Homo sapiens: one gene and its partners. The protein of the gene in region 1 interacts with the protein of each later gene in a biochemical or structural test. Each region holds a gene or a part of one and is shown in the gene's direction. Other genes may lie near its edges. The genes, in order: UNC93A, PDZD2, PDZRN4, FRMPD2, TAMALIN, LIN7A and CARD11.

What was found.
Region 2: the proteins of UNC93A (region 1) and PDZD2 interact in a test that uses a peptide from one of them, tested with the Homo sapiens proteins (one large-scale study listed by IntAct).
Region 3: the proteins of UNC93A (region 1) and PDZRN4 interact in a test that uses a peptide from one of them, tested with the Homo sapiens proteins (one large-scale study listed by IntAct).
Region 4: the proteins of UNC93A (region 1) and FRMPD2 interact in a test that uses a peptide from one of them, tested with the Homo sapiens proteins (one large-scale study listed by IntAct).
Region 5: the proteins of UNC93A (region 1) and TAMALIN interact in a test that uses a peptide from one of them, tested with the Homo sapiens proteins (one large-scale study listed by IntAct).
Region 6: the proteins of UNC93A (region 1) and LIN7A interact in a test that uses a peptide from one of them, tested with the Homo sapiens proteins (one large-scale study listed by IntAct).
Region 7: the proteins of UNC93A (region 1) and CARD11 interact in a test that uses a peptide from one of them, tested with the Homo sapiens proteins (one large-scale study listed by IntAct).

Annotation. Positions count from the first base shown.
Region 1 is NC_000006.12:167,308,148-167,312,398, forward strand, and holds part of UNC93A (protein unc-93 homolog A), read left to right. Parts: intron 1-1,392; coding exon of another isoform or gene 1,393-1,631; exon of another isoform or gene 1,632-2,449; intron 2,450-4,251.
Region 2 is NC_000005.10:32,103,633-32,107,883, forward strand, and holds part of PDZD2 (PDZ domain-containing protein 2), read left to right. Parts: exon of another isoform or gene 1-1,083; intron 1,084-2,491; exon of another isoform or gene 2,492-2,548; intron 2,549-2,655; exon of another isoform or gene 2,656-4,251.
Region 3 is NC_000012.12:41,569,145-41,572,858, forward strand, and holds part of PDZRN4 (PDZ domain-containing RING finger protein 4), read left to right. Parts: intron 1-3,219; coding exon 3,220-3,714.
Region 4 is NC_000010.11:48,239,986-48,244,236, reverse strand, and holds part of FRMPD2 (FERM and PDZ domain-containing protein 2), read left to right. Parts: intron 1-1,884; coding exon 1,885-2,076; intron 2,077-3,744; coding exon 3,745-3,877; intron 3,878-4,251.
Region 5 is NC_000012.12:52,004,770-52,009,758, forward strand, and holds the start of TAMALIN (protein TAMALIN), read left to right. Parts: upstream 1-2,176; 5' UTR 2,177-2,250; coding exon 2,251-2,496; exon of another isoform or gene 2,497-2,886; intron 2,887-3,052; exon of another isoform or gene 3,053-3,991; intron 3,992-4,420; coding exon 4,421-4,470; intron 4,471-4,989. UniProt on the Homo sapiens protein: Plays a role in intracellular trafficking and contributes to the macromolecular organization of group 1 metabotropic glutamate receptors (mGluRs) at synapses.
Region 6 is NC_000012.12:80,808,543-80,812,793, reverse strand, and holds part of LIN7A (protein lin-7 homolog A), read left to right. Parts: intron 1-1,110; coding exon 1,111-1,329; intron 1,330-4,251. UniProt on the Homo sapiens protein: Plays a role in establishing and maintaining the asymmetric distribution of channels and receptors at the plasma membrane of polarized cells.
Region 7 is NC_000007.14:2,946,087-2,950,337, reverse strand, and holds part of CARD11 (caspase recruitment domain-containing protein 11), read left to right. Parts: intron 1-2,550; coding exon 2,551-2,763; intron 2,764-3,250; exon of another isoform or gene 3,251-3,741; intron 3,742-4,251. UniProt on the Homo sapiens protein: Adapter protein that plays a key role in adaptive immune response by transducing the activation of NF-kappa-B downstream of T-cell receptor (TCR) and B-cell receptor (BCR) engagement.

The DNA of each region.
Region 1 (4,251 bases):
CCCTCAGGATGATGTGGTTTTGCTTAAGTCAAGTCGCCCATTCGAGCTGGGGTGCAAGACTCTCTACCCCTAGGACAGCAGTCTCTTCATGACTGAAAACCTTTATTCAGATGTGCTTGTGAGCAGAGGCACACTCCCGTGTACCTGGGCCTGGGGTGTAAACATGCAGAGCCTTCCAAGGAGCCCACGGGACGATGGGAGGTGGCAGTGTGAGCCACAAGCCACACACATCACAGGTCACTAGGGTCAGTGTCTGTGGACGGGGCTCTGGGGCATCCTGGGCAGTGGTGGGTTTTCTGGGAGCAGCAGGTGGGGGCCCTGTGGATGTGGGGGAGCAGGGGAGGCCAGGGTGGGCTTCCTCCTAGAGGCTACATCTGCATCACGTATGGGCTGACCACTGTCCAGGTGGGGTGGGGTGCAGGAGGAACCAGGGCAGGAGGTGGCAGGGATGCTCCAAGGCCTTGCTGGGGCTGGGGCCCCTAAGAAGGCGGCCTGGGGGGAGTGCAGAGGAGTGGGGTGGAGTGGCAAGTCGGGTCCCCAAGTGTGGGGCCAGCATGTGGGGGAGGGTCAGATGCACCTAGGTCACTGGAAGCAGCAGAAAGCGCTGACACCCAGGAGTGACTGGGAGCTATGTGGAGTCGGCCCCGTGTCACAACAATCAATTCCAAAAGGCAGGTGACAAGGTCCAAGGTGCGGCCCTGTGGGGAGCCGGGAGGGCTGGTTGTCGGATAGAAGGTGACATCCCATGATGATGGCAGGAGCCAAATGCCAAAGTCCTCACAGAATAGGGTGGCCTGGCCAGGAGGTCAGGCAGGGCAGTGAGGACACGGATGGGAGATGAGCGGGAGCCAAGGAGCCAAGCAGGAGCCAGGGAGGAAGGGGCCCCAGGCTCAGGCAGCTGCACTAGAGAGGCCTGAGGGCAAGAGAGCTGGAAGGGGACATGGCCGTTGCACCTGTAATCCCAGCTACTCGGGAGGCTGAGGCAGGAGAATCACTTGAACTCCGGAGGCAGAGGTCATAGTTAGCCGAGATCGCACCACTGCACTCATGCCAGGCTCTGCTGAGCTCCGAGGTGCTTTGTGCGGGCTGGCTGTGTTTTCCACAAGGAGATGCGTGAGAGCGTTTTGGAGGAAGGTCACTAGGAAGAGAAGGAAGCTGGGGCAGTGTGTGTGGCCGCTTGCCGGAGGGTGTGCGTACTGGGTGGTGTTGAAAATGACACAGATGAGGACTTAGGGTAGGAACCCTGAATTTCCCAAAAAACCCCATCTAAGGCCCCGAGGGGTGTCAGAGGCCCAAAGAGGCAAGACTGCGTGTCTAAGAGATGCTGATGAGGTGAGATGAAGTGTCCTCTCGGAGGTGAGCATGGCTCACATGAGACCCTCTTCCCTTCAGGAGAGACTTCACCATTCTGCCTTTATCTGGGAAACACTCGGGGCTTAGAAAATGGAAAAAGCAAACCCACAAACGAACTACAGGCCAATGTTTCTGAGATGACAGACCTGGCTGCTGTCCCTGCACTGAGGATAAAGAGCACATGTGACCTCAGATCGCGGACAGAACACTCCAGCCACGTCCTTTCTTGTCTTCCTGGTGGGTTGCGTATCCACAGGACAGCTGAAAATCACCTTTGAACAAACCCACACTGTTGGATTTAAGGAGCCGTGTTTCACAGTCCTTTCTGCTGCCCCAGTAATGCAGGTGGACCTAGTGAAGCTCTTCACCAAAATGCGTGTGTACTTGGCCCAGCGCCACACTCTGGCTTGTTGGGATCAAGGCCTGGAGGCTGGAAGGGGTAGACTGGACCCGAGGCCAGGCCGGGGCATTGCTTAACAGAACAAATACTGATTTAATGGAGGGGAGACAAACAGCAACTCACTTTGGTGTTCTTGGCAGTGCAGAATTATAAGCTAGTGGCATGTCACCTCGCTGCAGGACTCTTAGCTACGTTACCAATAAGCATCAAACAGTATTTGTTTAAACTGTCCCCTGGATGTGTGGCAGAGCCGGTGTTTCACTGAGCTCCCCAAATGCACATCCCATTACCAGAAGTGCACCATGACTTATCTGAACTTACATGAATTTTAAAATGTATTTACACATTAAATGAAAAGGAGAACACTGGGACAAATATCCCCACAATATTCCATACGATAATTCCCTAAATGCTCCCAATGAATGTGATCATTCATATTTGGTTTTTGTTCTTCCTGAGCTATGTGAACAGTGGACTTAACTCTCCTTTTCCTTATATGGACACATGATACTCTCAGGGAAAGCCTTGTTGAATTGTGCAAACAAAGTTACCTAAGGTCAAACAAAGAGTATCAACGTCCAAGTCCGGTGAATGACTGGAATAAAGACTCCCTTTAATAAGGGATGCTAATTTAAATTGAAACTGTTTCTGTCTTTCTGTACAGGAAAAAGTAATTTTTTTCAAAAATAAACCAAACTGGCCGGGTGCGGTGTCTCACCCCTGTAATCCCACCACTTTGGGAGGATGAACCAGACAGATCACTTAAGCTCAGGAGTTCAAGACCAGCCTGGCCAACATGGTAAAACCTCATCTCTACTAAAAATACAAAAATTAGCCAGGCGTGATGGCACATGCCTGTAGTCTCAGCTACGAGGGAGGCTGAAGCTGGAGGATCACATGAACCTGGGAGGCAGAGGTTGCAGTGAGCTGAGATCACGTCATTGCACTGCAGCCTGGGCGACAGAGCAAGACTCTGTCTCACAAAAAAAATGTTGGGGAAAATATTTTCATATACTTGAGAAGCTCCTGTGGACTTTATACTCGCAATCGTCATGCGTGAGTGGCATTTTAGTGCCGCGTTCCTGCACTCCTGGCAGGCTGGCTCTCCATGCAGCACAGCACACACACAAGGTCTCTGTTCTCTATTTTTTGAAAAAACTGGAAATTTTATGTAGCTTTGGCTACATCTCAAGAACAGCTCTCTTCATTTTTGTTTTTCTAAGTAGCAAGTTAGATTTCTAATCCTATTCTCCCCAAATGTATGCTTTCCTTTAAGAACATATGTGGACCACGTATGTTCTTAATTAACGACACCGAATAAAACCCAATGCACTTTGTCCTCACCTTTCAGTCATCACTGCTCAATTTAAAGACTGGTCCTTACAGTCTCCCACTTAGAAGCAGGTCAGAAGACTTCACCATTTGAGCCCCTCCTTCCTGGGCCAGAATTGAGGATCCCTGGCTCACTGTCCCACTGGGCTCCAGCCATCCCCTGGCCTCTGCAAGGGGAGATCTGTGCCAGGCACTCCTCTCTGCTTATTCCCTCAGACAGCTAATGAAAGATGGGTGCAGTTGCCATGGCAACCCTTCCCCGCCAATGCGCTGCCATGAAGATACAGAATGTCTAGTCTAAAAATACTCTTTTGCTCTGTTGGCTGTTTTCAGGGTGATAAACTCAGAAAATCTCACTTCTTCAGTGCCCTATTCACTTAACCTGTCTTCTCTGACTAAACAAGATTGCTGGACTTCTCATCCACATCCTGGTCTCTTTAACCCTGGGCCACCTGGGAAGAGGAGGCAGACAGGCCAGGCTGAGAGCAATGCTTTGTCTTTCTAAATACAGCTTTTATTTTGAAATAGTTTTAGATTTACAGAAAAGTTGCAAATGTAGTACAGAGAGTCCCCTTGAAAGGTACCAACCTATAGATCCAATGCATTTACCCCGTAGGCCCTGTGCCAGCTTCCCCAAATGCTGAGCATCTCACAGAGCCACGGCACATTCGTACAGCTAGGAAGTAACGCTGCCATGTGACAGTTAGTGGGGGGACAGCCTTTATTTGGGTTCCTCCAGGCTTCCCACGAGGGTTCTTTTTTCTGTGCCAGGATCCTGTCCTGGATTCCCTGTTGGACTCAGTCATCGTATCTTCTGGCTGCTCTGTGACAGCTTTTCATTTTCCTTGTTTTTCATGACCTGGACCCTTTTGAAGAGCACCGTAGTCTGTAGGCTGTTCCTTAATTTTGGTTTGTTTGCTGTTTTCTCATGATTAGGCTGGGGCTGTGGGTTTGCGGAGGACAGCTCCCTGGTGAGGCACTTTCTTGTCCCGTCATATGGGGGATACAGGACAGGGACAGGCCTCCTCACCAGCGATGTTAACCTTGATCCCGTTGGCTCCGTGGTGCCGGCCACATCTCTCCACTGCAAACCCACTGCCTTCCCTTTCCACACGCGGTTCTGCGGGAGCGAGTGCCCAGGGAGCCAGCAGTCAAGAAGACAGCAG
Region 2 (4,251 bases), on another chromosome or scaffold:
CTAAAATGGAGGTATTTTAAGACACTCCTGAGGGGAGCGGGAGTGGCCGCCTTCGTGGTTGGTCACAGGACACGTAGCCTCTGCAGTCCAAAGGGACACAACCCAAAAAAGCGTGTGAGCCTGCGAACCGAAGGACCAGGGCAGACGCTGACTAAAGCAGCACATCGGCTGGGGAAGCCAGGCTTCGGGACCCCACACTAGAAGAAGCCACAGGAGAGATGACATCCTTCAGATCTGCCTCCAGCAAAGCAAGAATATGACGTCCTGGACAACTTCTCAGCCTTTGTCTCTAGCATCTGGCCACAAATCTGTGAAAACTGCTATGGAAATGGATAGAGAAGAAGAAAATTGTCAGTCCCACAGACTAGCGCTTTAGATGCTCTCGTGTGCAAGCCTGTGGTTTTGTTCTTGGGGAAAGCCATTCAAGTATTTCTGAGTATGATACGGCAGATCCCACCTTTGGAAACTAGTGAGACTAAAGATGTCATTATCTGGCCGGGCATGGTGGCTCATGCTTGTAATCCCGGCACTTTGGGAGGCTAAGGCAGGCGAATCACTTGAGGTCAGGATTCACCTTATCTCGTATTTCATATTTACAAATTTCATGAGTACAGGTTTTCTGTTCATTTTGTTTTCCTGTGTCTTTAAGCTCAAGCATTAGAAAACAATATAGCAAGACTGATTTCTTTGAGTAAGGTTATTACAGAACAAGCATTTGAATAATAAAGAATTTTTTTTTTTTTAACAGGGTCTAGCTCTGTCACCCAGGCTGGAGTGCAGTGTCACAATCTCTGCTCACTGCAATCTCTGCCTCCCAGGTTCAAGTGAATCTGGTGTCTCAGCCTCCTAAGCAGCCCAAGGTGGGTGGACCACCTGAGGTCAGGAGTTAGAGACCAGCCTGGCCAACATGGTGAAACCCCGTCTCTACTAAAAATATGTTAGCTGGGCATTGTGGTGCATGCCTGTAATCCCAGCTACTCAGGAGGCTGAGGCAGGAGAGTCACTTGAACCCAGGAGGCGGAGGTTGCAGTGAGCCAGGACCACACCACTGCACTCCAGCCTGGGGTCAGAGAAGGCTCCATCTAAAAAAAAAAAAAAAAAAAAAAAAAAAAAACATATAAAATGTTCATTATATGGCAAAATTTATAAGCAAATTCAAAAGTAAGTGATTAGAAGATATTTACAATATATTTAATAAACAAAGGGTTGATATCCAGAATAGGCAGGGTACCGTGGCTCACACCTGTAATCCCAGCACTTTGGAGACCAAGGTGGGCAGATCACTTGAGCCCAGGAGTTCAAGACCGGTCTGGGCCACATGACGAGACTCCACCTCTACAAAAAATACAGAAATTACTCGGGTGTGGCGGCACGCACCTATAGTCCCAGCTACTCAGGAGCTGAGGTGGGAGAATCATTTGAGCCCAGGAGGTCGAGGCTGTGGTGAGCCATGGTTGTGCCACAGCACTCCAGCCTGGGTGACAGAGGGAGACCTTGTCTCAAAAAAAAACAATCAATCAATCAATCAATCAATCCAGAATATATGAAGAACTATATAATTCAGTAAGAAAAATACAAGAGAGAAAGTTTGGGTAAAGAAAGCAATAGCAAATGGACAGAAGTTAAAACCTAGGTGGCCAAGAAACACAGGAAGATGCTCAAACTTAAATGTATTGGATGAAAATTAGAAATATTATAAATCATTCTTTTAATCTATCAAGTTGGCCAAAAATAAAAAATCTCATACTATGATGTGTTGGCAAGGATGTGGAGAAAGGAAAACACATTTTTTTTCTCGTGCAAGTATCTACTGGTTAATCTTTAAGGAAAATTTTAGCAGTGCTTACGAAAATGGAAGCTATGAAACAATTTAAATTTCTATCTGTAGCAGAATAAAATATATTCATCTAAAGGAAAGCTAAATAGCAGTTGAAAAAATAAATTACACCTCTCTCTATATACTAACTGGGACCGGCTCAAAAACAGTGTTGAATGAAAAAAAGCCAAATGCAGATTGTGCACTGTGTGACACCAATTCATGGTAAGCATAAGGAACCTAAGAATGTGTTCAACAAAAGCTATGCAAGACCTTTTTGGGAAAAAGCATAAAAGCTTTCTAAAGGACAATTTTAAAAAATCTATGAGTAAATGGAGAGAGAGACATATCCTGCTCAAATCTGTTAAGATTCAGTTTGGCCTCATGTAATAGGAAATCCAAAATAGCAGTGGTTTAAACGAGAGAATTTATTTCTCTCTTGTGTAAAAAGTCCAAAAGCTGGCAAACCTCTGCTTTGTACAACACTGAATGTTTCCTAAAGGAGCAGTCCCCAAGCTTTTTGGCACCAGGGACTGGTTTTGTGGAAGACAATTTTTCCATGGTGAGGGTTTGGGTGGGGGATGGTTTCAGGATGATTCAGGTGCATTACATTTATTGTATACTTTATTTCTGTTATTACATTTTAATATATAATGAAATAATTATACAACTCACCATCACGTAGAATCTGTGGGAGCCCTGAGCTTGTTTTCTTGCAACCAGGCATCCCATCTGGGGGTGATGGGAGACAATGACAGATCATCAGGCATTAGATTCTCATAAGGAACATGCAACCTAGATCCCTCGCATATGCAGTTCACAATAGGGTTCACACTCACGTGAGAATCTAATGCTGCTGCTGATCTGACAGGAGGCAGAGCTCAGGTGGTAGTGTGAGTGACGGTGAGAGGCTGTGAACAGAGGAAGCTTTGCTCACTCACCCACTGCTCACCTGCTGTGCAGCCCTCCTGCCACCAGTCTGTGGCCCAAGGGTTGAGGACCCCTGTCCTAGAAGACTTTCCTCTACTTCATCTCATTCAGTCCTTCTAACAACCTAGTAAGATAACAAGACAGATATCATCATCACCATTTTGCAGATGAGAAAACTGGAGTTTGGAGAAATCTGTAACTTGCCTGAAGTCACAGATTTGAGACCAAACCCAGTCTGATTGCTCCTTCAGTGTGCGTCAGGCTGTTCTGGTTGCCTGGAACCTCCCATGTCCTGAAGCCCAGGTGAACACTCACAAAATTCTTTTGTTTCACATAACCTGAAGGCCTTCGGTTAATATGCTAGAATAGGACATTGGGTACTAAGTTAACACAAATATAATTGGTTCTTTGGTCCTTCCAAAAATGTATCTATCTCAAGAAAAGCAAGGACTAGGGACCAAATCATTTTCCTGGGGCCCACTACAGGGCTGATATTGGTGAGGTCTCTCTTCTAATGTAACTAACTGCCTCTATCATTTACCACAGAAAATGTTTTTGTCCTTGTGTGGGCTGGATTTCTTCCAAGCTGTATTTTTATCACATAATATTTATTTCAATAATTTCAATAACGACTTTCAGTAATTTAGGATGAAATCGATACATCTGCTCAGTCTTTTGAGGTCTAATCAAAATTTCTGAGAAAATTTTTTTCACACTTGGGACTTTTTCTTTCAATGCCATTTTTTTTCCATAAGATGCCTCCATAGCTGGTGTACCTTTAGAAGTATATGTGTGAGAACGTAAATGGAGGGTTTACACTTGCATTTTTTTCAAAGCTCATACAAAGCTAGACAAAGCTATAATGTGAACATGCTAAACTCTGTAAGTAAGTAGTCCCCATGGTCACTAATGAGCACATAATCACTGATTCTCAGAACTTGCATATATCAGCCAGAATCTGTTAACAATTAGAAGCTGACAGCCTGGGCAACATGGCAAGACCCCATCTCTACCAAAAATATAAAAAAAAAAGCTGTGCATGGTGGTGTATGCCTGTGGTAGCAGCTACTCTGAAGGCTGAGGTGAGAGGATCGCTTGAGCCCAGTGAGGCGGAGGCTGCAGCGAGCCAAAACTGTACCACTGCACTCCAGCCTGGGTGACAGTGTGAGGCCGTCTCAACAACAACAAAAAAAGTTGAACCTGCTTTTCTGTGTTTACTGGCTGTTTGGAGTTCAGCTGTTGATTTCCTTACCCCAACTTTATTTTGTGTTATTCTTGTTGACTTGTAGCTCTTTAGTCTGGATGTTAACCATTTGTTGATTAAATACATAGAGAGTATCTTCCCCTTGTCAGTTTATTTTTATCTTACAGATTATGTTTGGAGGGGCGGCAGGAGGGCTAGAGTTGCACTGTTTTCTGTAGACCAGTTTACTTTTATGGATATATGCTTTTTGTGTTCTAAGAAATATTTCTCTATTCAATAATATATTATTTAGATATTTTTA
Region 3 (3,714 bases), on another chromosome or scaffold:
AGTCTCACTCTGTCGCCCAGGCTGGAGTGCAGTGACACAATCTCAGCTCACTGCAACCTCTGCCTCCTGGGCTCAAGCGATTCTCCTGCCTCAGCCTCCTGAGTAGCTGGGACTATAAGTGCACGCCATCATGCTCAGCTAATTTTTGTATTTTTAGTACAGATGAGGTTTCACCATGTTGATCAGGCTGTTCTCGAACTCCTGACCTCAAGTGGTCCACCAGCCTCAGCTTCTTAAAGTGCTGGGATTACAGGATCCCACCACCACACCCAGCTAATTTTTGTATTTTTAGTAGAGATGGGGTTTCACCATGTTGACCAGGCTGGCCTCGAACTCCTGACCTCAAGTGCTCCACCAGCCTCAGCCTCCTAAAGTGTTGGGATTGCAGGCATGAGCCACTGCACCTGGCCTCAACATTAATTCTTAACACATCTTAAAAGATGATAATTTTTTTGAAAATCTTGACAGGCTTAGAAACTTGCAGCACAAACATTCTATCACTTTACCATGTTGAATAATGAAATATTCAGCTTGCTAACATCCCATAACAGAAATGTGTATGTGTGTGCACATGTCCACATATTAAATAAATAATTAGATTGCACACTATAGCATCAACATAGTCATATGTGATATACTCATGTGCTCATTATGTGGAGTTTGGCCACTCCACAAACAGAATTTCATGCTCACAAGTAATATCGCTACTGTGGTGACTGTCTTTCAATATAGGTAGGGCAGATTAAAATTTTTATGTATAACTTCAACACTGGCCAAAAATAAAGATATTTTTGGTGGCAGCTGCTGGTTACAAGCAAGAAAGTCCTTGCTCCAGGCTTTTTTTTTCTTAGATACAAAATGTGACCTGATACTGAATTGATAGGAGGATGTTGGAATAAGGAAAGCAGGGAGAAATCCTGTCCAGGTAAAGTGACAACGGTGTCAAACGCTGCCTACTCATCAGAGGTAATACAAATGTTAGGTCTCGTGAGGTAACACTAGATGCCTCTGAGGTTAGATTCTCATTGTGTGGAATTTTTTTCTTCACCATGAGACTAAAAAATGGTGAGAAGTACAGAAACCTTTAAAAGTCCTTTGCCCTTATAAACAATAATACTACATTAGAAATGTCTAGGTAGAAACATTGCCTGTCACTATAATAATTCCATAGGGAAATGATAAATGATAGAGTAGCATTGCATTAGAAACTAGGAATTCTAGGTTTGAGAATAGAAAACTATTTTATTTTCACAGTTGTTCATAGACCAATAACAAGGGAAAGGGGATATTCAATTGAAAAAATAAAATACCTACCCATATGTGAACCTACTTTATGGAAAGTTTCATTTTACACAGTATGTTTGGTCTTATGAATGCCGTTACATTGTGCAACATCTCCCATAGCATAATTTGTCATTATTATGTCATCTGCATGTAAAATAAGAAAAAAATTACTAGTCTTCTTGTATTTTTCAGCTCATGACAAGATATTAGAAAAATATAATTATAAATAACACGATATATAAATTCAAATGCCCAGTATCAATAACATTCTTTGAGAGTTATATGGTGTAGTATAAAGACATTGCCATATTAAATACTATTGTCACCTTATAAGTCACAGCCTAGGGATGCAGCAAGCTTCCCATTGTTCGTTACAGTTACTTATTATAATTTTTTAATCAATAAGACATTTAAGATAAATCTCAGTATGTTTTCAACAAATGAAGGAACATGTTCCAGGGAAAGAAAGATTGAGAGTCATAGAAAAGCTGATACATGGTTATGTTCTCTCCTCTTGATATTGTTACTTTTTATCCTGCCACTACTTTTGTGGAACAAAATAACAATTATCTAGAGAGACCTTTTTAGACTTCTTTTAGAATATCTTTTGTCACCCGTTCTATCCTTCTTTAGCACTAGCTGTTGGCTTGATTATATTTAATTGTGTAATTACATCTTCTAGAGGGATGGAGCTATATCTATACCTATCTATCTATCTATATATATATATAGTGAATAAACTTAGGCATAAGGCAGATATAACCTAGAAACTGCCTTATAGATTATCATATGATGACTGATAGAGGTGAAAGTAACTTTACCATATTCACAGAGAAAGAACTACACATGCATCTTATTAGGACAGTTACAGTTAATTGTTTTACATGAAAGCCAAAAATTACCAGAGTCTCTCTCTCTCTCTCTCTCTCTCTCTCTCTCTCTCTCTCTCACACACACACACACACACACACACACACACTACATAAACATACATGCATGCCTATATACATATATGTGACATAAGTGTCAAAATTTTTTTGATATTATGCCCATGTCTGGCAATCAGTGCTGTTCAAATTTTCATGGGACTGAATTTTTATTCTCAATAGACTAAAATTTATCTTTGAAAAAAAATCCCTGGTTAAGAGTAGAAAAATCTTATACAACCCCAATGAGTCCTAAAACATTGTTGTTGCTTTTGAGAAACATGATTTAGAGTGCACTGAGGTCAGAGCACATGTATTCAGGAATATGGCATCCTGGACATATAAGAAATTCTGGCACTGGAAGATGAAGCTTTGCCTCCATCTGTCATTAATAACCTGAATCTGCCACTAATAACCTGAATCCTTTTGGAATTGAGCATCCTCACCTATAGATAGCAATGTCCTAGGCTCCAGTACATAATGTTAACTTAGTCCTAAAACTCTGTGATGTTTGGCTTACCCATTGTCAGCATATTACTAAGCCAGTGAAGTTTCCTCTGTACTTAAGGGGAAAAACATAAGGTGATTGTGGCTTCTGAACATCAGGTCTCCATATTGCTGAAGACTATTTAGACATTCTGTCTTATTCTTTTGCATATTATCACCTCAGAAATTCATACAGTCACTTTGTTTATACACCTTCAACCCCGAGTTTCCCAAGTAAGAGAAAACCTAAAGAATCACTTATTTGAATGCATTCTGTCTTATTTATATCCATGTGAATATCATAGCCATATTCAAGCGGGTTTTGTTTTCTTCATTTCATTGTATAAAAAGCTGCCATGAGCTAATTTCCTTTATTTCTAAAATTGTGATGGACCCTAAATTAGAGCAACTGTCTAGGAGATGCAACTTTGCCAGGAAACATTGGTTTTCAAACAAGATTTTTAATAACAAATGTCTTCCAAAATCATTAATTTTCTTTGTTCTTTCAACATCATTTTCTTAGCCAAAAAAGCAAGAAGAAGAAGAAGGCACAACAGACACTGCAACATCCTCATCCAACAACCATGAGAAGGACAGTGGAGTAGGACGTACAGATGAAAGCTTGCGAAATGATGAGAGCTCAGAGCAGGAGAATGCAGCCGAGGACCCCAATAGCACATCTTTGAAGAGCAAGAGAGACCTGGGGCAGAGCCAAGACACTCTGGGAAGTGTTGAACTTCAGTACAATGAGAGCCTCGTATCTGGTGAATACATTGACTCAGACTGCATTGGCAACCCAGATGAGGACTGTGAAAGATTCAGGCAGCTCTTGGAGCTCAAATGCAAGATTCGAAATCATGGAGAGTATGACCTGTATTACTCAAGCAGCACAATTGAATGCAATCAAGGGGAGCAAGAGGGAGTGGAGCATGAGCTACAGTTGCTTAATGAAGAACTGAGAAACATTGAGCTTGAGTGTCAGAATATCATGCAGGCTCACAGGCTCCAGAAAGTGACA
Region 4 (4,251 bases), on another chromosome or scaffold:
GAGGTGGGGAGACCACTTGAGCTCAGGAGTTCGAGACAAGCCTGGCCAACATGGCAAAACCCTGTCTCTACTACAAATAAAAAAATTAGCTGGGTGTGGTGGTGTATGCCTATAGTCCCAGCTACTTGGGAGGCTGAGGCATGAGAATCGCTTAAACCCCGGGGGCCGGGAGGGGAAGGTTGAAGTGAGTGGAGATCAAACCACTGCACTCCAGCCTGGGCAACAGAGCAAAACCCTGTCTCAAAAAAGAACTACATAAAAATATCCTAATATTTTACACAATTTTCAACTACAGAATAGAAGTGTTTGTGTACATTTCCATCTGATACTATAACAATTCCTTAGAGACTGGTGCCACAAGAACACCTGCTGGAGAGCCCTGCCTAGCTGACCTGGCTAGACTGGATCCCTCCCTCCTCCTCCCTTCCTTCCTGCCTTTCTTTCTACTCACCCCGACCCTCTCCAATTCAACATCCGGGCTCTTCCTGGGTGGTCTTTCTAAGAGACCAGCTCACGACCACTCTCACATGCAACCTTTTGTAACGCCTCACTGGCCGTGGGGTTGCCTTCTGACTTCTCAGTGAGACACACCTGGAGCCTAGGATAGGGTCCCTGCTCCCGTCTGGTTCCCCTTTGGCACTCTGCCATAATCAGGACCGGCTTCCTGGGTGTGTGTCCTGAGTGTGTGACCCTGTGTCATAGCACAGGGTCCTGCACTTAGTTTAATGCTCTGCTATCACTGTCCTGGAATTCTTAATAATTTTGAACAAGGGACCCCACATTGCTATTTTCCCCCAGGCCCCTGTCCTGCTCATAATCCCCTTCCCTTCAGATGCATGTCAGCTCATCTGCATCTTCGTGCCTTTGTACACACGGATCCCTTCACCAGCACCTCACTCCCCACTTTCCTCTTGGTTAACTCTAGCCTTGGCTAAGCCCCTTCCTCTACATTAGTGCCATGGCCTGTGCTTCCCAAGGTGAAAGTCCTTGTCATCCTCTATGGTCTTTGTCTCTTTTAGTGACCGTCTCTCTCATCACACCATTATTTTCCTGAAGGCAGGGACTGTATCTGGTGTGGCTGTGCAGCACCAGGCACAAAAGACGCCTGGATTTACTGTGACGGCAGGACTCAGCAGCTTGGCTGTACACAGAGATAGGTGCTCACAGCTGATGCTCCCCAGCAAGAAGCGGTAGTGCAGCCTTTATCTGGAAAGTGACCTGCAGTGTGTGTTGAGCTTGAGAAAAAGTCTGATTTTGAATCTGAATTTGAGGACTTTCTCCTATGAATTGTGGTCATTTAAATGCATGAGGGAAATGCTTATAAGATGCTTCTGTTTTCTTTTGCTCGATGTGTACACGTGACATAAAGTTCAACCAACAACGATTGAGCATTTGTGCTGACTGCTGGCTGTTCCGAAGTGAACAGGAATAGGCCACAGTCTGTATGTTCCAGGAGCTCACATTCCAGGGGAAAGGCCAAGTGAGACCCCCTGAGTGATTGGATACAATGACAAGCTACGCAGGTGAACTTGAGTGAAAGGCTGACCTCTGGTTTGATTTGGGGTGCTTGGCACAGGTGGAAATCCATCTTGTCAAAGCATCTAGTTTTCATGAGCATTCCAAGCATGTGCTTGGGCAGAAGGATGTTCTGGTTTAGAAAGCAGCAGACAACACAGAATTGCTGCAGAGATGATTGCTCCGCACTTTGCGGCCTCAGTGATGGATCTTGTGTCTGTCCTTAAACTCTCCAGAAGGGGCAGGCATCTGCTCTGGTGCTTGTGGGAACACCCGTTTCCATGTCTCCAAGGCCTGCCTGACAAGGTGCTGGCCTCGTAGTGGCAGCTCTGGCTGCTCTCTCCTCTCACCGGCCCTGTCTGCCTCCAGCCCCTGCAGCTCTGCGAGCCCCTGCACTCCATCCTGCTGACCATGTGTGAAGACCAGCCTCACAGGCGGTGCACGTTGCAGTCGGTTCTGGAAGCTTGTCGGGTTCATGAGAAAGAAGTGTCTGTCTACCCAGCCCCTGCTGGTCTCCACATCAGAAGGCTGGTTGGCTTGGTTCTGGGTACCATTTCTGAGGTCAGTAGAGAACCGTGCTTTTCAAGCAGTAGCTGCTGGTCATGTGTGGCTATTAAAATTTGAATTAGTTATATTATCATTAACTAAAATAAAATAAAAAATTAAATTAATCAGTCACATCTGTCACATTTCAAGTGCTCCGTTGCCACTCGTAGCAGGTGATGACCCTATTGAACAGGGTGGATCTAGAACATTCTTGTCATTGCAGTTCTATTGGGCAGTGCTAACAAAGACCTTTAGGCAAGCCCCAGTTTGTCACATGGCTAAGACCCTTGACATCTTTGCAAGTGCGTCCTTACATAAAGCAATAATGTTTAGAACCCATGATTCAGTTTTCTTATCAAAATTCAACTCTAGGTTCTGCACAGAAGCCTTCCCCGACTTCGTTTTTGTGGTCCCTGGGTACCCTCCCCTCTGCTATTTTATACCTGTGGGGTGTCCTTTGTTGTGCTTGTCACACTGTGCTGCTTGCTGCCCTGTGCACTCCACAGAGTGCAGCAAGGGGCCTGGCACATGGGAGGCATTTGGCTTAGGTTGGATTCCCTCCAAGCTAACCCAGAGACAGGGATTCTTGTGCAAGTTATTTACTGGGGAAATGTTCCTGGGAGAGGGGAGTGATGGTAGTACAGCTGACAAGTTGAAGGATATAGTCTCAGCTGGAGACAGGCCCAGCCTGGCCCCCTGGGGAGCTCTGTTGCAGGAATGGCACCATGGAGTTGGTCCCCCATGAGACCTGAGTGGAGCTGGGATAGGATGGGCAAGTGAGGTGCCTATGGCACAAAATGTAAGGAAGTTTGTATTTGGGAGGAACCAGAGACAGGTAAGCTAGAGGCCAGTTGAGTGGCTGCACTTGTCCAGGGACAAGTTGGAGAGCTGAGAGCAGGATTAATGAGGGCCAAAGTGGATGGAGATGTGGGGACAGCAGGGTGGACAGCGGCAACAGTCAATCAGAGAAGGCCTCTGCCATCAGAGAAGGCCTCCTTCTTGGACCCCTTCTCTCTTGGCATAGGAACATGTGGCTCCTATGAATTGAGCCAGAGGATTTGGTGGGGGAAATGGACTATATTTATTTGAAAGATACTGAGGTCTACCATCCACTGGTGTGCCATTGTCCTTGGATAGACAGTGTACTGACCTGCAACATTTCCGTCAGGGATCTGCAAGGTAGATGTCAGTCACGTATTCAACATTCATTGGGCACTGCATTAGGTGTGCTACGGTGGTGCATAAAGCACACAGAGATGTTGGGGGAGACAGACAAGCAGCACACTCATGGAACATGATGCAACAGAGCCAGGTGTGAGTGCAGTGATAAGGGAAGGTGATCAGACGGCAGAGGTAGAGAGGCTTAGAAGTAGAAAGCACACAGCTCTGGGTCTTGTGGGCACAGAGGAGCTTCTGGGGAGGCTGTAGCCATGGAGGGAATGCATGAGCAAAGGCACAGATGTGTGTGAGTGTGCAGGTCTGGAGTGGGGAGTGAAGTGCCTTCAGGGTGCATGCAGGGGGTGGGCACAGAGCACATTCTGGGTGCCAGAGAACACATCTTTAGGTCACCGTATAGGGCAGACAATTCCACATTGATTCAGTCTGACAGCCAGTTTGCATGTATCTATAAAAACGCCCCCTCCTTATCTTGGGATGTGGATGTGTGATGCACTTGACCCCCAGGTGGAGAAAAGAGTTGTGGAGGAAAGCTCCTCTGTGCAGCAGAACAGAAGCTACCTGCTCAGGAAGAGGCTGCGTGGGACAAGCAGCGAGAGCCCAGCGGCACAGGCCCCGGAGTGTCTGCATCCTTGCAGAGGTGGGTACGTGCCCTAAGCAGTCCCTGCGTGGGCTGATGGTACCCATTCTATTTTTTCCTGCCCTGTATGGGCTACACATCCACATTGTGATGGCAGAGAAAGCCTATGTAAGTGCCACTCTTTCAGGAAGCCCCTGAAGAGAAGGGGCTGAGCTTAGGACTCACCTGTGTTCCCAGGAAAGTCTTATTTGGGGACACAACACAGTTATTTATATCAAATGAAAACTTTAAAAATGAGTTCTAACTGTCCAAGTTGAGAAAATCCAAATTGAAACAAACAACAAGAAAAGAAAAACTTGATTTTTTTTTCAGTTATTGTTCTGGGTGTGTTAAAAGAGTGGTTTTTGGAATAATCTTCAAATCTACTGTTCTCT
Region 5 (4,989 bases), on another chromosome or scaffold:
TGCCACACCTGTGGCATCCACTTCTCCAGGTTTCAGGCAAGGAGACATGTCCATTAGGTAACCCTCTGTGATAGCTGGGGTGGCTCCTTCACAGAGGAGGTTGTGCAAGATGCCCTTTTGCTGGGTCCCTTTGGGGATAAGCAATGGAATGAATGGAATATACATCATTGCCTCTCCGCTTTGCGTCTCCCCCTCCCACCCCCCACAGATGCTGTCTGTCAGGAGCAGGCAACAGACGGTCCTGGGGTCCATCTGTGCTAATGCTTCACAATAGAGTCCCATGTTTCCCCACTGACACCCCCTCGGCCCCTCAGCTGATGGCCACTTGGTGGTGCCAAGGCGGGAGGTGGGAGGAGGGAGAAGAAGGCACTAAGAGAGCTACCTCTTAGCTCCTGGCAGTCCTCAATCCACCCCGGCCCCCCACCCAACAAGCATCCTGCCATCTGGACTTGTGCAATCACTGAGGGGCGGAAAAGCACCCTCTTCCACCCACACCTCTTGTAGGGGATGGGGGCCTAGAGGACTGGGGGTGGGGAGGAGAACACAGAGTCAAGGAGACTAGAGAAGAAGACTGAGCCAGGCGCAAGAACTGAGACAGGCAGGAGGCAGAAAGTCTTTCCTGGCCTCGCAGGTGGACGTGGCCATTGCCCCTCTGTGCTCCTTATGCCACGTGTCTAACACAGCACATGTGCAAGGTACCACTCCCTACCAGGCCAAGAGCCTCTGTAACCCCAGTGCCCAGCCAGTACCTGGCACACAGCAGGGCTTAAATGTTGGACAACATCACAGAGTGGTTAGATTGCAGGCTCTGGAACCAGGCTGCCTGGCTTTGAATCTCAGCTCTGCCGCTGAGTGACTTAGGGCAAATTACTTATCTTCTCTGGGCCTCAGTTTCCTCATCTGTAAGGGAGGATAATGGTGCTTATTTCGTAGGGTTGTTATGAAGACCAAGTGAGTTAATGCATGTATGTAAAAGGACACACAGAACAAACAGTGTGCATAGCACATGCTAAGTGCTCAATAAATGTTAACTGTGAAGGCATAACAGATTTGGGAAGACTGGGGGAGGAGGGAGGGGACAGACAAGGGCACCGCATTGCCGCCTCTGCTTCTTGGCCGATGGGTGTTGGGACATGGAGTCCCCAGCCTGTGCTGCTGACGCCCTGTGGTGGCTAGCCGCTCTTTAGACACCAGACGCTGCCTTCCACTTCCTCCTCTCACTTCTTATTCGGGCACCACTGACGACAGAGACTTCGGCTGGGCCATTCCCGCCTCTCCTACCGCCTGGCAGCCATGGTAACAGCCTGGGGGATGGTCCCTAAGATGGGGTCAGAGAACGGCTGAGCATGGCCATCCCCCCAGCCCTGAACTCCCACTCAGCCTGGGCTCATCCCAACCTCCTGAGTCAAGTCCACAGTAAGCGTCTGTCTCCTGGGAAGGGGGATCTGACCCCGGCATCAGGAGCTGAGGAAAGGTGTTGCCAGCAGGGATCACTCAAGCCCCTTGGAGGGGACAGGCCAGAACTAAGCCTACTGCTTTCAGGGTTTCCACCTCTTCCCTTCTTCCTAGACGTGCGAACAGGGGGCAGCCTCTTTCAGCTCTTCTGGGGCAGCTGCGTCAAGGGAAAATCCTGGGCCCTCTCCCTCCCTGGGGGCTTCTGCGCAGTGAGTTCAGGGAGTCTCCTCCCTCCTCCATCGGGCCTCCACCCCTACTCCTGCGCAGCCCCGCTGCCGCTCTCCCTGCCCTGGAGTCTCCTGCAGCCCCTTGGATCTCCGTGACTCTCCCTACCTCCCCGACTCCCCAGGCTTCTTACAGTGACCTCTTACCGTGCCCCACTCCATGAATCGCCAGAGCTATTCGTCCCTAAATTTCAAACCTTGCGCAATGTCCCTTCACAGACCCCTCCAGGTATCACGCAGCCCCGAGCCCCGAGCCCCGCCCCGGGGGCCTCATCCCGCCCCTTCGCGTCCGCGGCTCGTTTTCCCCCACTGAGCGCCCAGCTCCCGCAGTTTCCCCGGCCGTCGAGCGCCGTGGGCGGGGCTCCAGGGCGGCGGCGCCTCGCGGGGAGGGTCCTCCGTGCTGGGGGCGAGGCCACCCGAGGCAGCTCCCCGCCCGCCCCCAACCCCGCCCCGCTCTCGGAGCCTATAAAGGGAGGCGACCCGCGGCCCGCCCGGCTGGCATCCCCCAGCCGCCGCCAGCCCCGCCGAGGGGAGCCAGCGCCGTCTCTGAGGGGCGTCCGGCGCCGGAGCCATGACCCTCCGCCGACTCAGGAAGCTGCAGCAGAAGGAGGAGGCGGCGGCCACCCCGGACCCCGCCGCCCGGACTCCCGACTCGGAAGTCGCGCCCGCCGCTCCGGTCCCGACCCCGGGACCCCCTGCCGCAGCCGCCACCCCTGGGCCCCCAGCGGACGAGCTGTACGCGGCGCTGGAGGACTATCACCCTGCCGAGCTGTACCGCGCGCTCGCCGTGTCCGGGGGCACCCTGCCCCGCCGAAAGGTGCGTCCCCCGCCCGCCTTCAGGATCTGCTCAGCCCCTCTCCGACTCCCTACAGGGCCTGCTGACTCCGCAGTGCCCTCTCCTCGGCGTCCGCGGAGTCCCCCACCTTCTTCCCCGGCCCGCTGGGTGCCTCGACTCCCCGCGTTCCCCGCTGCTGCGAAGGCCGTGGCCCTCGCCTGCACACCGCGCCCAGGCTCGGTGGCTCTTAACTCCGCGCCCCATGCACGCCCCCTCTCTCCCTCCTTGACTCCTCCCAGCACCCCCCTTCTCCTACCCGCTCCATCTGGCTTTCTGCCCCCCATGCCCCGCCTCCCCGTGGCCAGGTGTCCTGGGTCCCCAGGAGCCCCTCGCCCGAGGGACAGAGACAGCCCCAGGCAAGTTGAAGGTCCGAGAGCCCCCGGTGGGAGAAGCGGGCCGGTGGCTGCGCCGCGTGCGTTCTCACTCTGAGGAAGTGCGTGGGGAGCCGCTGACTCCGGATAGCACACCCTTCCGAGGGGACTCCCCGATTCCTGGGCTGGGGGCCTGCCGCCTGGCCCCACGTCTGACGTACGGGGCGCGAGGGCCACTGCTCCCTGGACTTCTGTCGGAACCGGACGCAGTGGGAGGGGTCGCAGGGCGCCCGCGGGGCAGGAAGGATGCGGGCCGCGCCCACCTCTGAGTCCCCTCTGCCAGCCTCTTCCTCTGGCCCCAGGAGACCTGAGGCTCAGAACCTACACAACACCAGGTTAAGAAGAGGGGCCTGGTGGCCTTTCCTCACCCAGCCGCCCTCCTTCGCCCCGGCCCCCAGCTAGCCCCCACACAATGAACAGCTTGTTGAGAATTTGCATTTTATGAAAATCATGTTGAAAGACAAAGGGGTCTCTCTGTGCTGCCCAGTCCTTCCTCCCTGGCCGTTTGGGAACTGTCCCCACCCCTGAGGCCAATCTGGTTCTGAACCTTCTCTTCCTTGCCTTGGGCAGCTTTGGGGGAGGGTTAGCAAAGGCACAGAACAGAAAGGCCCTGGGCTGTGCAGGCTCCAAAGAAAAGGGCTGCTCTGGGACTGGACCTCCTCCCAGGACCAAAAAGTTAGGGAGGGTGAGAGACTACTTTAGTTTATCAAGGACCCTGAAGAGACAGGAACCTTCATCTCTCATCCTTCCTCCACACCCCCCACCACCACCCCTAAAGAACTCCCAGTCTCGGTCCTTTAGTGAGACTTGCTGACAAGTTTGACATCTAAGATGTTTTGTCCCAGAAAGCACAAAATATATGGCAATGGAGAGAGAGACCCAGGTATAGCTGGGCACAGCTGGTCACCTGCAGCTGGGATCCACAACTGGTCCTTGAAACGGCCTGTACCTTAGGAGACCTGGCACCTCTGACCCCACATTCTGGCTGGGATTGCCAGCCCTTCGGGACAGGGTCCCTGACCCCAGCCCTCCCAAGCCACTGTCTGTAGCTGAGAAATTAGATGGAGAGACCCAACTGGCAGAAGGTCCTCGGAGCACCTTGATAGGTGAGCCCAGGGGACACCTATCCTCTGAATCCCACTGGGGAAGAGCCCCTGCCTCAGCTTTGGGAGTCTGGATGGCCTGAGCCTCTACAGACATGGGCCCTAGGGGTGGAGACCATTTTAGAATAATGATCTCCCCACCTGCTGCCAGTGTGGAAACCAGCAAGGGCTTAGAGGTTCATGGATCTGGAACCCAGGAGGATGGTTGTGTCCCTGCAGTCCCAGGTATGAAGGTAAGGCCTGTAGAGAAAGTTGAGGAGTGGTGCCAGTAGTGGCACTTGGCAAATAGTTCCACCAGCACCAAAACAGGTGTGGATGTGGAGCTGGGAAGGGGCAGACAGGAAGTGGGTCGCTGTGTCCAGGGTAACCTCTCAGTGTCTGCTCAAGGACAGTCCCGCCTTACCTGCTCCTTCTGACCATCTTACTGCCCAGGGCTCAGGATTCCGCTGGAAGAATCTCAGCCAGAGTCCTGAACAGCAGCGGTGAGTCACCAACACCCAGCCCCTGCCATGGTCCAAAGGGGTGAGGTGCTGGGTTGGGGGGTGCCAGGACAGCATCTCAGCCTAGCGAGGGTAGTCATTCTCCTAGCCTTTAAACATGGCTCCCCCGCTGGGAGTGAGGGCAGGTGGGGGTGAGGGCTGTGTGAAGGGGGTGGCAGAGAAAGGAGGTAGGGACTTTTGAGTCATTAGGTGCTCTTCAACACACCCCCAGTCCCTGCCAGTTACCCCTCCCTGGGGAGATCTGGATGAACGGATGTGGGAGTTGGGAGGGGGTGTAGGCAAAGTCTATGGGGAACGTCCTAACCCAGGCCTCCTGGGCTCCCCTGAGCCCTCCTAGCCTTGGCAAACCCCACGGGCCCAGACCTTAGCCAGGCTGTGTCCAGCTGCTTGGGGCTGGCTGCCCCTGCCTCCAGAATGTCAGTCCTCTTCTGGTCCCAGCCTGTGGCAGCCCTCTTAGGAGGGATCTGAGCGTGGGCAGAAGTAGGTGCTGACTCCAGGCCC
Region 6 (4,251 bases), on another chromosome or scaffold:
GGATCGCTTGAGGTCAGGAGTTCAAGACCAGCCTGGCCAACATAGTGAAACGCCATCTCTACTAAAAATATAAAATTAGCCGGGCGTGGTGTTGCACACCTTTAATCCCAGCTACTCGAGAGGCTGAGGCAGGAGAATCTCTTGAACCCAGGAGGCGGAGGTGGTGGTGAGCCCAGATCAGGCCACTGCACACCAGCCTGGCCAACAAGAGTGAAACTCTGTCTCAAAAAAACAAAAAAGGGCAAATAAACCAGAAAAAAAACCCTTTTGCACTAAGTATATGACAGTCACATACTGAAACTGTTTTTCTGGTTTGCCTTTTTTTTTTTTTTTTTTTTTTTTTACAGTGTTTGAGACATAGAAACTTACACTGTGCACATCTGATTTCGTGGTTATTTTTCCTGTGGCATTTTAAATTAAGAATTCCTTTTCTATTGAAAAATGATTAATGTTCACCTTTCTTTTATTTTAGTTACTTTATGTTTTTATGTTACATTTAAATTTTAATTAATCTGTTATATTTAGCATAGTGTATGAGATTGAGTCTCCATTATTTTGTATTATTTAATTTAGTTAATAGTCCTTTTCTCCTTTGGTCTAAAGTCCACATTAATAATAAATAAAGCTTTCCATGTGATGACTCTCCTTCTGGACTCTGTGCTATGTTCTACTATCTCTTTTATACACACAATAAGACACCACTTTAATCATTGTAGATTCTTAATAAATTTTAATATCTGATACAGAAATTTTCTCTTTGTTACTATGTTTTAATTTTTTTCAAAATTTTGTTGACTAGTGCATTTACTCTTCCAGATAAAATTTGGAAATTTCATTCCTAATGTTAGCATTATAATTTAGGTCTTCATTGCTTTTCACCCTTATGACCTGAATCCCCACACAGTCCATTCTGTGACCTAGTGCAGCCTAACCTGCTTATAGTTTAACCACAATGTAATAAATAATAACGATGATGGTAAGATAACTCATTTGCCATGTTTTCTTAAAATTTTAAATTTTGGGTTCTTAATGTGATATTAATTTCAGATTTGTCTCCAGGGAAAAGAACATTGAACCTCCTCCCTTTAAGAAGTGTCATTGTATTTTCAGAGTGTGGAAGGAGAACACCATGAGAAAGCTGTGGAACTACTCAAGGCTGCTAAAGACAGCGTCAAGCTGGTGGTGCGATACACCCCAAAAGTTCTGGAAGAAATGGAGGCTCGCTTTGAAAAGCTACGAACAGCCAGGCGTCGGCAGCAGCAGCAATTGCTAATTCAGCAGCAGCAACAGCAGCAGCAGCAACAAACACAACAAAACCACATGTCATAGGTGAGAAGTGACTTATTCTATACAAGGAGTATATATATATATATACACACACACATATATGTATATATGAATATACTTAAAATATATTTTAGATATGTTCTAAAATATATTTTCTTAGCTGAAACAAAATCATTAGATTTAAATAATCCAAACAAAATCAATCAAACAAAAGACAGTGATCTAAAAGTATATAAGCAAGATAGTTTATGTGCCATTCAGCTATATTCTCCACAAATATAAGATAATTTGGAAAATGATATACTTTGAAAGGGGCAAGTACAGGCTCTAGGATGCTTTTATACAAATTAAGAAAATGCAGCCTCTGTGCAAACCCAGATCCTAAGGAGAAGAGTGTGGGCTGGATTCCAGGCCTCACTCACCCTGTTGGCCAGTTGCCTTTACACAGTGTATTAACTGCACAACCTTATAGTGCTGACCCTGGAAAGATCTCCTTTAGAATACTGAGATACAATTTATTGGAAAAGTGCCCCACTGAAAAGAATGAAGCTGAGACCTGCCACTGTCTATGCTGTAAGAGATTCTGAAGTTCTCTGCGGATGCTCCTTTAAAGTGTGTCTAACATACAAATGGCCAACAGCTATATGAAAAAATGCTCAACATCTCTAATCATCAGAGAAATGCAAATTAAAACCACAATGAGATATCACCTCATACCTTTTAATTTGGCTATTATCAAAAAGAGGAAAGATAACAAGTGCTAGTGAGGATGTGAAGAAAAGGGAACCCTTGTACACCGTTGGTGGGAATATAAATTGCTACAGCCAATTTGACAGACAATATGGAGGTTCCTCAAAAAAGTTCATAGAATTCCATATGATCCAGCAATTCTGCTTCTGGGGAGATATTCAAAGGAATTGAAATCAATATGTCAAAGAGATGTTTACACTCCCATGTTCAATACAGCATTATTACAACAGCTAAGATATGAAAACAACTGAAGTGCTATCAAGGGATGAATACATTTTTTAAATGTGGTAAGTATGTGATAGATATCTATATCTACCTACACACACACACACACACACACACACACACACACACACACACACAGATGTATACCATTTAATATTTAGCCTTTAAAAAGCAGGAAATGTCATTTTTGTCAGCGTGGATGGGCCTAGAGAACATCATGCTAAGTGAAATAAGCCAAGCATGGGCAGACAAATACCACATGATCTCACCTATGTGTGGAATCTGAAAAACTTTAATTCATAGAAGTAGAGAGTAGAATGTGGTTTCCAGAGGCTGGGAGGCTGGGGGAGGAGGGTAGACAGAGAAAAGGGAAAAGGTCTTAGCTAAAGGTTACAAGTTTCAGTTAGGTAGAAGGGGAATAAGTTAAGATGATCTATTATACAACTTGGTAACTATAGTTAATAATACTACATTGCATATTTCAAAATAGCTGAGAGAATGGACTGTAAATATTCTCACCACAAAGAAACAATAAGTATTTGTGGTAACAACTTTGGTAGCCTGATTTGATCATTCCACAATGTATACATGCATTGAAATATCGCATTATAATCCATAAATATATAAAATTATTACTTGTCAATGAAAAATAAAACTTTAAGAGTTTTGAAAAAGTTGTAAAGTAGAAATAAAATGTGTCTAAGATTCTCCTGCCTTTTTCTAAATTCCACTTTGTAACAAAGAACACTAAATCAGGTTTTGCTGTATATTATCAAGAGAATTGAAGAAAAAATGTTAAGAGACCCCATCTTAGAAGTTCCTACTATGCCCTATGCCCTTATCACATTTTATCCCTAATCCTCAGAAAAAAACCTTCAAGGCAAGTATCAATAAATAGTTTTTTAGATGAAAATATGAAGCTAAAATAGCTTCAGTGGATTTCCCATGACTGCATTTACAGAAACATAGAATTCTTTTCCTTTTTACTCCATCAGGTTTTCATCTGCCAACATCAGATATTCTGGAGTTATATAAATTTTCCTTGCTATCCTTTGGAGAAGACAGTTCATATTGTTAGATACCTTTACACTATGATGTCTGTGAATGTGTATTTGAAGTGAACTTCAAATATTCTTGGAAAAATGATTGTGGGTAATAGTGGTTTTAGGTCATTCAACATCAGATTACTATTTGCACAAACAGAAATATTGGATATAACATGAGGCTTTTAATTGTTTGTGACACTTGTGAAAAGAAGAAGCTACAGGCTGGGAGCAGTGTCTCATGCTTGTAATCCCAGCACTTTGGGAAGCCGAGGTGGGTGGATGACGAGGTCAGGAGTTTGAGACCAGCCTGACCAACATCGTCAAATCCCATCTCTATTAAAATTCAAAAATTAGCTCCTGTAGCCCCAGCTACTTGGGAGGCTGAGGCAGGAGAATTGCTTGAACCCAGGAGATGGAGATTGCAGTAAGCCGAGATCGAGCCATTGCACTCAAGCCTGAGCAACAAGAGTGAAACTCTGTCTCAAAAAAACCACAAAAAAAAAAAAATGAAAAGAAGAAGCTACACAGAAAAGGGGGGAAAAGATAGGGATTTGTCCTACAACAATCCTGGGAATTCAACAATCTATCTATCTTTCATAGGCTGCTATTTTTATTATATGTACCATATTTTAGTATCTTTATCTAAAATTGCATTCTATCCTAAAAAATACATTTATTGGGAGCCAAGCGTGGTGGCTCACGCCTGTAATCCCAGCACTTTGGGAGGCCGAGGCAGGTGGATCACGAGATCGGGAGATCAAGACCATCCTGGCTAACATGGTGAAACCTCGTCTCTACTAAAAATACAAAAAATTAGCCGGGCGTGGTGGCGGGCGCCTGTAGTCCCAGCTACTCAGGAGGCTGAGGCAGGAGAATGGCGTGAACCTGGGAGGTGGAGCTGGCAGTAAGCCGAGATCGCGTCACTGCACTCCAGCCTGGGTGA
Region 7 (4,251 bases), on another chromosome or scaffold:
AAGGATTCCTGCTGTTAACATTTCTATCTAACATTGTACTGGAGGTATTTTAGCCAGAGCAATTAGGCAAAGAAGAGAAATAAAAGGCACCCAGATTGGAAAAACAGAAGTAAAACTACCTTTATCTGCAAATGACATGATCTTATATATAGGCTATCATAAGATGTCTCTAACAAACTAACAGAACTAATAAATGATTTCACAAGGTTGCAGAATACAAGGTCAATATACAAAAATAAATTATATATCTATAGACCAGCAATGAATATCCCACAAATGAAATTAAGAAAAAAACTCCCATTTATAATGTCATCAAATTAATGAAATACTTAGGAATATATTTAACAAAAGAAGTGCAAGACTTGTACACTGAGAACTATGAAACATTGCTGAAAGAAATTAAAGAAGATTTAAAGAAAGACATCCCCCTGTTCATAGATCAGAAGATTTAATATTGTTAGGTAGCAGTACTCTCCAAATTGATCTACATATTCAGCAGATTCACTACCAAAATGCCAACTGCCTTTTTTGCAGAAATTGACATCCTAATCCTAAAATTAGGTAAAAGGCACCTAATAGCCAAAACAATCTTGAAAAAGAACAAGGTTGGGAGACCCATACTCCCAATTTCAAGGCCTACTACAAATCTACAAATCTTCGGTAATCAAGACAATGTAGTACTGGCATAAGGATACACATATAGATCAATGGAATAGAATCAATAGTGCAAAAACAAATGTTTACTTTTATGGTCAGTTGATTGTCAACAAGGGTAGCAAGATCATTCAATGGGGAAAGAGTAGTCTTTTCAAACAAACTGTGCTTGGACAACTGGACATCCACACATAAAAGAATGCAACTGGACCCCTACCTCACACCATACACAAAAATTAACTCAAAATGGATCATCCTCAATGTAAGAACTAAGGTATAATATTCAAAGGCAAAAAACAGGAGTAAGTCTTCATCATCTTGAGTTAGACAATGGTGTTTCGGATACATGCCAAGAGCACAAGTGAAAAAAAGAAAAAATAAATAAATTGGACTACCTCAAAATTTGAAACTTTTGTGCTACAAACAATGCTTTTAAGAAAGTGAAAAGACAACTGACAGAGTGGGAGAAAATATTTGCAAGTCATATATCTGATAAGTGGCTTGCATCCAGAATACATAACAAAATCCTACAACCCAATAATAAAAAGACAAACAACACAATTTTAAAATGGGCAAAGGATTTGAATAGACATTTCTCAATGCACACAAATGGCCAATATGCACATGAAAAGATGCTCAACATCGTTAGTCATTAGGGAAATGCAAATCAAAACCACAATGAGATGCTACTTCACACTCAGTAGGAGAGCTGTAATAAAAAAGACAGACAATAACAAGTTGTTAGCAAGAATATGGAGGAATTAAAACCCTCATGGCTTGTTGGTGGCAATGTAAAATGATGCAGCTGCTTTGGAAAACAATTTGGCAATTCCTCAAAATGTTAAATATAGAGTTGCCATATGGCCTAACAATCCACTCTTACGTATCTACCCAAGGGAAATAAAAACATACAGTCACACAAAAACTTTTACATGAATGTTCATAGCAGCATTGTTCATAATAGACAAAAGGTAGAAATAACTCAAATGTCCATTAGTGGATGAACAGACAAGCAAAATGGGGCATGTCCATGCAATGAAAAAATCACTGAGCAATTTAAAATAAGTGAAGTCCTGATACATGCTACAACAGGAACAAACCTTGAAAAGTTGCTGAGTGAAAGAAGCCAGACATGAAAGACCATAAATTGTAGGATTTCACTTGTATAAAATGTACGGAAAAGACAAATCTATACAGACAGAAGGTGAACGAGTGGTTACACAGGGCTGGAGGAGCAGGGATTAGAGGGAAATTGAGAGTGGCTAATAAAGGGTGAGGAGCTTCTTTTTGAAATGACGGAAATGATTTTAAATTGATTGTGGTGGTGGTTGCACAGCTCTGTGAATATACTAAAATCATTGAATTGAACATATTAAAAAGGTAACTTGTATGCTATGTGAATTACATCACAATAAAGCTATTTTTAAAAACGAATGACTTAGATCTATATGTATCCATCTAGATAAATCTCAAAAAAAAATGTAGAGGGAGAAAAACATGCTGAAAAAGGAAACGTACAGTATGACACCATTTATGTGAAATTTTAAAACAAAAGCCAATAGTATATATTGTTTAGGGAACTATACATTTTTAGTAAGACATAAAAACTTGGATGGAAAGGGTAGACTCAACCGCAGGATTTTCCCTCTCTGCCCTATAAATAATCTTTTTTAAAATTGATGGCTTAAACTTCCATTGTTTATGTTTAGCATATAAGGAAATATATATTTTTATATTCATAACCCCTTTCTTAGACAAAAGGTAAAATGCTATATATACTTTAGTGTACAGGACTTTTTTTTAACTTAATATATTCTAGAGGTCACTCCAGAGGAGTTGATAGAGCTGTTCCAGTGAGACTGCTTTATTAAGCTTGTTGGGGTTTATGTCTAAAAGGAGGAGGGCCAGAGATGGATGACTACATGGAGACGCTGAAGGATGAAGAGGACGCCTTGTGGGAGAATGTGGAGTGTAACCGGCACATGCTCAGCCGCTATATCAACCCTGCCAAGCTCACGCCCTACCTGCGTCAGTGTAAGGTCATTGATGAGCAGGATGAAGATGAAGTGCTTAATGCCCCTATGCTGCCATCCAAGATCAACCGAGCAGGTAACCTTAGGACCTCTTTGCGGGAGAGGGAGGGCTACCGCACACGGCAACTTCCAGACATACCCTTTGGTAGCTGTACCAAAATGAAGTTGCTCTAGGTCAGGGATTTTTAAACTGGGGTCCGCAGTCCATCACCTACTCATTTGTGTATAGAACTCAAGCTGTCTGTGTATGGAACTCAAAGGATCCATAAACTGGGAGGGGGGAAGAAATGCCATCTTTATTTTACCAACCTCAACTGCAATTCAGCATTGCCCTCAATTGCAAATGTCAGGAAGCCACAAATTACAGGAGTGATTAGTAATTCTTGTGACTTAGGCAACAATGAAAATTACAGATCTCTTCCTATCACTACAGTTACTGCAAATCTCTCAAAATGCCACTTACACTCATCTCTCTTTCAAAATTACAGTACTTATTAGACCTGCCGAGAGGTCTTGTTATTTAATGCATTAATAAAGAAGTATGTTACTGAAACACAAATTTATTTAATATTTGATAACTGGATTTTATTATAATTGGTTTCTTTTGTAATCTGATGTACTTTATCTGTTTAAAAATATTCCGAGAAGGGTTCCACAAGCTTTTCTAGCCTGACTTCTGGAGGGGGGGTTTATCATATTCAGTAAAGGTAATAAATATGGTTTGTGAAGCTTGTTTTAATTTTACATTATGTACATGTGTATACACATGTACTTGTAGAGTTATCTTTGTCTATGGTCACTAGACCACAATGTTAAATGTTTTTCTTTCTATGGATCAGTTTAGAAGGTTTGATAATCACTGTCCCCCAGCGTGGCTGGTGGTAAGTGGCTCATCAGCTGCGACTCTCTGGCATCCATGGCAGACATCAGTAATCAGCATGCTTTCCCACTGAGCTTGGATGTAACTTTGGAATGTTTCTCGAAACAGTACTGCAGGCGGCTTCACCAAACAATCGGGGTTGACATACCATCAAATTTATTTCTTCTGTCCGTCCTAGGGAAAAGGTCGAGTTTTAAGACCTACCTTTCTTCTTCTATATCTCAGAAGAATATCTGAAAATAAAATGTTTAAGGAAGGGCCCAGAAATGTAAGCAATAAGTGGAATCAATAGTATAGAAACTGGGACCTGCTGGGGAAATTACATTTAAGGTGTTTCCAGGTTGTGTAATAATCCCAAAGAAAAACCTAGAACTATCCCTACTTCCTATGATTTTTCCTAGCCTCTCACCCAAAGATTTGTCTTCCTGCTCTCAATCCCAGAGAACCATATATTATTCCATAATTTTTATCGTGCTTCCAACCTCCTTCAGTCATAGAAGACCTGGTGCCTACGTGGTTCATTTTGGCCCTGGTCAGTTGGGAAACTCTTCAAAACTGGGGCGGCAATTCCATTTATCCTGGTTCTACCAGTTTATTAGAAACAGAAAACTAACGCTCACCAAATCCCTGCGGAGGGCCTGGCACCTTGATTTACGTCATCTGGGCTCCAAGATACAACTCAGA